Regions from separate parts of the Homo sapiens genome. Here region 2 is linked to region 1. Evidence: fine-mapped expression QTL. A gene starts in region 1. The other region holds a variant in brackets. All regions are shown on one strand. Distances are between the middles of the regions.

Evidence for each region. PIP is the estimated chance that this variant, and not a neighbour inherited with it, causes the effect.
Region 2: its variant is fine-mapped to the expression of RIN1 in whole blood (INTERVAL, PIP above 0.99).

Annotation. Positions count from the first base shown.
Region 1 is chr11:66,334,580-66,337,490 of GRCh38, reverse strand. It overlaps RIN1 (Ras and Rab interactor 1), which reads left to right and starts at 1,057. Exons shown (of 10, transcript NM_004292.3): 1 at 1,057-1,174; 2 at 1,333-1,513; 3 at 1,615-1,729; 4 at 1,809-1,881; 5 at 1,993-2,084; 6 at 2,240-2,911. The coding sequence starts at 1,089. It overlaps BRMS1 (BRMS1 transcriptional repressor and anoikis regulator), which reads left to right. Exons shown (of 10, transcript NM_015399.4): 10 at 1-152. RefSeq lists an enhancer at 1-577.
Region 2 is chr11:66,204,206-66,207,116 of GRCh38, reverse strand. The region is part of intron 2 of PACS1 (phosphofurin acidic cluster sorting protein 1); the gene reads right to left. Among named protein-coding and RNA genes, the nearest start is that of KLC2, 52 kb to the left of the region's middle. The variant T/AT (reference allele first, on the strand shown) is at 1,459.

The DNA.
Region 1 (2,911 bases):
GCGGGAACTCTGAGTCAGACGTGATTATCTGGGGGTCTGTCCACCCTGGCTGGATCTGGAGGCAAGATGCCAGGCCCCCCAGGTGTTCTCAGGGCAGTTCTTGGTGTCTGCTTCTCAGATTCCAAGGACTGGAATTAAAACCTTTCCTGGGACTCTGGCGTGCCCTGTGTGTGTGTGTGATTTACCTTGCAAGAGAATCAGGGCTCCCGTGGGGAGCACCTGAACCAGGCCGACTTCTAGGGTGCCTGCAGATTGCCACTCCTCACACTACCCAGCAGAGGCTAGAGCACTGTGCGTGGGGCCAGGCTGGGGAGGGGGAGGTGGGCGCTGGGCTGCCTGGCGCTGGGCAGAGTCAACATATGGCACCGGGAGAGTGCCTCGGCGGGGAGGGTGGATGCGTGTGCTTGGAGCCTGGGTCATGTCTGCACCTGTCCCAGTTGCCTGGCAGATTGGCAAGGCAGGCTGGCAGAGCCTGCGTGCGTGGGAGGCAGCCGGCAGCACCGCCATGTGCTGACGACCTCACAGCCAGACTCCCCCTGGTTAGCACTGAGTGTCAGAACCACCCCCAGAACCTCAGTTAAGCAAATAGGTTGGTTTCCATGGAGACATGGCATATTTTCTCCATGGCAACCTAAAATCCTAAAACCCAGGTTCAGGAATGAGTCATCTATGGACAGTAGAGGGTGCTCTCCCACAAGGCTGACCTGAGGCCAGGGGCAGATGAGCAACTGACCACAGAGCCAAAGGTGCCCCCAGAGCATGGCTGGGGCCTGTGGGGACTGAGGCCGCTTAACCACTTCCCGCCCACGTGTGCAATGTGAGTAGCTGGTGAGGCTGCAGGAGGCCGTGTGTGGAGGTGGCATCCCCCAGCTGGGGCCCTCAGAGCAGGGCTAGCATGGAGGGGACCCCTGACCCCCAAAGCAGGGTCCAGAACAGAGGAGGCGGGCACTGGCCAGGCAGGGTGGACACACAAGAGTTAACTGGCGGGTGTGACAGGCGGACCGCCCTCAGGAAGTGTTACTCACTGGGGATGTGCGTGCCTTGCCTTGGGACTGGATTCTCTTCCTGAAGCGAAGGAGCTCCCAGCCATGGAAAGCCCTGGAGAGTCAGGCGCGGGCTCTCCTGGAGCCCCCAGCCCGTCCAGCTTCACTACTGGGCACCTGGCGAGAGAAAAGTTAGTGAAGTTGGCAGGGCAGCCAGGTGGGGCAGGGAGGGGCTGCGAGAGGAGGGCCTATCCGGGGATAGAGAAAGTGGGAAACCCGGGAGTGGGGAAGAGGAGAGCAAGGGTCCCAGCCCCTGGCTCCCTGCTCAGATCTGGGTGCCTGCCCCCAGGCCAGCCCAGGACCCACTGTATGACGTGCCCAATGCCAGCGGCGGGCAGGCAGGCGGGCCGCAGCGGCCGGGGCGCGTTGTGAGCCTGCGGGAGCGCCTGCTGCTCACCCGGCCCGTGTGGCTGCAGCTGCAAGCCAACGCAGCGGCCGCACTGCACATGCTGAGGACCGAGCCCCCGGGGGTGAGTCTTGCCCCACACTCCAGGGACTGGCCAGCCAGGGGTGGGAGGGAGAGGGATGGGACGCCAAGGTCCTGAGCTGCCTGAGCCCTATCCACTTGCAGACGTTCCTCGTGCGGAAATCTAACACCCGCCAGTGCCAGGCCCTGTGCATGCGGTTGCCTGAAGCCAGTGGCCCCTCCTTCGTCTCCAGCCACTACATCCTGGAGAGCCCTGGCGGTGAGGGGCTGGCCTGGCGGGAAGGGGCTGGAAGCAGGGAGGTTCCCCAGAGAAGCACCTCACTTCCCTCCTCTCTCAGGCGTCTCCTTGGAGGGCTCGGAGCTCATGTTCCCAGACCTAGTCCAGCTCATCTGTGCCTACTGCCACACCCGGTGAGTCTGCCCGCAGGGTGCCTGGTGTCCACGGGCCCTGCTCCTTGGGACAGCCCATCCTTCCCGCCCTCTTCGGCCCTCACTCCCTTCTGCTCCCCTCTCTGGCCTCAGGGACATCCTTCTCCTCCCGCTGCAGCTCCCCAGAGCCATCCACCACGCAGCCACTCACAAAGAGCTGGAGGCCATCTCCCATCTGGGCATTGGTAAGGGCTTCCTGCCACCCATTGCACAGATGAACAAGCTGAGGCCGAGGGGAAGGCAAGGCTCGCAGCACACCGCCCGAAGCCCCTGCCTTGCCTTGGTTGGGAAACTTCCCCTAACCAGTCCCGGAGGCCCCAGTCGGTTTCTTGTTCCCTAGAGTTCTGGAGCTCCTCCCTCAACATCAAGGCTCAGCGGGGCCCGGCTGGAGGCCCAGTGTTGCCCCAGCTGAAGGCCCGGTCCCCTCAAGAGCTGGACCAGGGCACCGGAGCCGCCTTGTGCTTCTTCAACCCCCTGTTCCCGGGGGACCTAGGGCCCACCAAGCGGGAGAAATTCAAGAGAAGCTTCAAAGTGCGCGTGTCCACAGAGACCTCCAGCCCCCTGTCTCCACCTGCCGTGCCACCTCCCCCCGTCCCCGTGCTGCCAGGGGCAGTCCCCAGCCAGACAGAGCGGCTGCCCCCTTGCCAGCTGCTACGGAGGGAGAGCTCAGTGGGGTACCGCGTGCCAGCAGGCAGTGGCCCTAGCCTTCCGCCTATGCCCTCCCTCCAAGAGGTGGACTGCGGCTCCCCCAGCAGCTCCGAGGAGGAGGGGGTGCCAGGGTCCCGGGGGAGCCCAGCGACCTCACCCCACCTGGGCCGCCGACGACCTCTGCTTCGGTCCATGAGCGCCGCCTTCTGCTCCCTACTGGCACCGGAGCGGCAGGTGGGCCGGGCTGCGGCAGCACTGATGCAGGACCGACACACAGCCGCGGGCCAGCTGGTGCAGGACCTACTGACCCAGGTGCGGGCTGGGCCCGAGCCCCAGGAGCTGCAGGGCATCCGTCAGGCGCTGA
Region 2 (2,911 bases), 130 kb after region 1:
TATTTGTGGGTGAAATGTTATGATGTACGGATTGCCTCAAAATAACACTGGTGAAGGGAAACAGTGGGGACACAGACGAAACGAGACTGGCCATAAGTTGATAACAACTGCAGCTTAGTAAGGGGTTCGAGGGAATTGTAAACTACTTCGTCTACTTTTGCACGTTTGAGATTTTTCCAAAATAAAAGTTGAAAAAAGTAATCAGTGCTTAGGGTTCTTTTAAGATTTCTCAGCTCAGAGCATATATTCACAGAATATGAAGGCCTGAGGGCCTGGTCCTGGGTCTTCCCTCTGCCTGGAAGGCTCTTCCTCCAGATACCTGCATGGCCCTCACCTCCCTCAAAGTCTTTGGGTAAATGTCATCTTCTCAACCAGGTCTACCGTGACCACCGTAGGGAATCCGTTAACTTCCTCCACCCCAGCCCTCTCGGTCCCCTTTATCTTAGTTATTGTCACTATAGGACATCACCTTCCAACAGCAGTAGCCTCATTATATGATTATATGAACTCTCACCACCCAAGTATGTGCTCTAAATACCTGTAAAACTTTGTATCCCAAATTCACTATCTGAATTTCAAATTCGCTAGAAGTAATCTGCGTGTGCAGGTAGCAGGATGCGGAGTGCAGTGTGTCACGGGATCGCAGCCAGGCCCAGCCCAGCCCAGCCCTTTCAAGCATGGTGCACTACTGTCCTCATCTTTACTACCCTTCCCCAGGGGTTTAGCTTTCATGGGTTCCAGTATTTGCTTCTTCCAGGTGCCTGGGGCACTACCAACCAGGGTCCAATTTCAAAATTATTTTTAATATACTTTTGTATCATTTGTTTATCTATATAACAGTATATCTTCTTTTGCAGTATAGAAGCAAAACCATTTATATTTAATACTAAAGTAACATAGCACATTAAAATATCCAATATTAATATTATTTTAAAAATTAGGTTACTGGTGTTTTATTATTATTATTTTGAGACAGAGTCTCACTCTGTTGCACAGGCTGGAGTGCAGTGGTGCAATCTTAACTCATTGCAACCTCCGCCTCCCAGGCTCAAGCGATTCTCCTGCCTCAGCCTCCCCAGTGGCTGGCACTACAGGCATGTGCCAAAATGCCGGGCTAATTTTTGTATTTTTAGTAGAGATGGGGTTTGACCATGTCGCCCAGGCTGGTCTTGAACTCCTGACCTCAGGTGATCCACCTGCCTTGGCCTCCCAAGTGCTGGGATTTACAGACATGAACCACCGTGACCGGCCAGGTTACTGCTGTTTTAAATGCTTCTTATTTAAACCAAAAATTCTTATCATATAGATATTTAACAGTATTATTGCTGAATGTGGTGGCTCATGCCTGTAATCCCAGCACTTAAGGAGGCAGAGGTGGAAGGATAGCTTGAGCCCAGGAGTATAAGAGCTGCCTGGGCAACATAGTGAGATCCCATTCTCAAAAAAAAAAAAAAAAAA[T/AT]TAAGAGTATTGTAGTGATATTTGAGGAAATTTGTTGGGGTTTCTTGGATGTCTGAAAATAAGCTGTTATTTTTCATTTATTCTTTATTTCAATTTTTAACTAATAATTTTTATGGGTACATGGCATATATATTTATGGGGTACATAAGACATTTTGGTACAGGCATACAACATGTAATAATCACATCAGGTTATATTGGGTATCCATCGCCTCAAGCATTTATCATTTATTTATGTTACAAATATTCCAATTATACTTTTAGTTATTTTTAAATGTACTATAAATTATCATTGACTGTAATCGTCCTGTTGCACTATCAAATATCAGATCTTTAAAACATTAAAAAAATTTTTATAATTAAAATAATTGTTTTGGCTGGGCGTGGTGGCTCATGCCTGTAATCCCAGCACTTTGGGACGCTGAGGCGGGCAGATCACCTGAGGTCAGGAGTTCAAGACCAGCCTGGGCAACATGGTGAAACCCAGTCTCTACTAAAAATACAAAATTTAGCTGGGCATGATGGTGCACACCTGTAATCCCAGCTACTTGGGAGGCTGAGGTAGGAGAATCGCTTGAACCTGGGAGGTGGAGGTTGCAGTGAGCTGAGATTGCGCCATTGCACTGCAGCCTAGGCAACAAGAGTGAAACTCCGTTTCAAAAAAAAAAAAGTTTTTAAAAAATAGAGATGGGGTTTCACTATGGTGCTCAGGCTGGTCTCAAACTACTGGACTCAAGGAATCTTCCTACCTCAGCCTCCCAAAGTGCTAGGATTACAGGCGTGAGCCACCATGCTTGGCCAAATACCAGGTCTTATTCATTCTATGTTTTTGTATCCATTAACTATCATCACTGCCCGACTGCCCATATGAGCCTGTGGTAACCATCATTAGACTATCTCCATGACTTTAATTTTTAACTCCCAGAAGTAAGTGAGAACATTCAAAGTATGTCTTTCTGTACCTGGCTTATTTCATTTAACATAATGTCCTCCAGTTCCATCCATGTTATTGCAAATGACAGGAACTCATTCTTTTTTATGGCTGCATAGTACTCCATTGTGTATATGTACCACATTTTCTTTATCAGTTTGTCTGTTGATGGACACTTAGGTGCTTCCAAATCTTGGCTATTGTGAATAGTGCTACATGGGACTATTTTGGTTTTTTGAGGAAACTCCATACTATTTTCCATATTCGCTATACTAACTTACATTCCTACCAACAGTGTACGAGGGTTCCCTTTTCTCTACATCCTCACCAGGATTCACTATTGCCTGTCTTTTGGATAAAAGCCATTTTAACTGGGGTGAGATGATATCTCATTGTAGTTTTGATTAGCATTTCTCTGACAATTAATGATGTTACATACCCTTTCATATGCCTGTTTGCCACTTGTAGGTCTTCTTTTGAGAGATGTCTATTCAGATCGTTTGCCCATTTCTTAATCGGATTA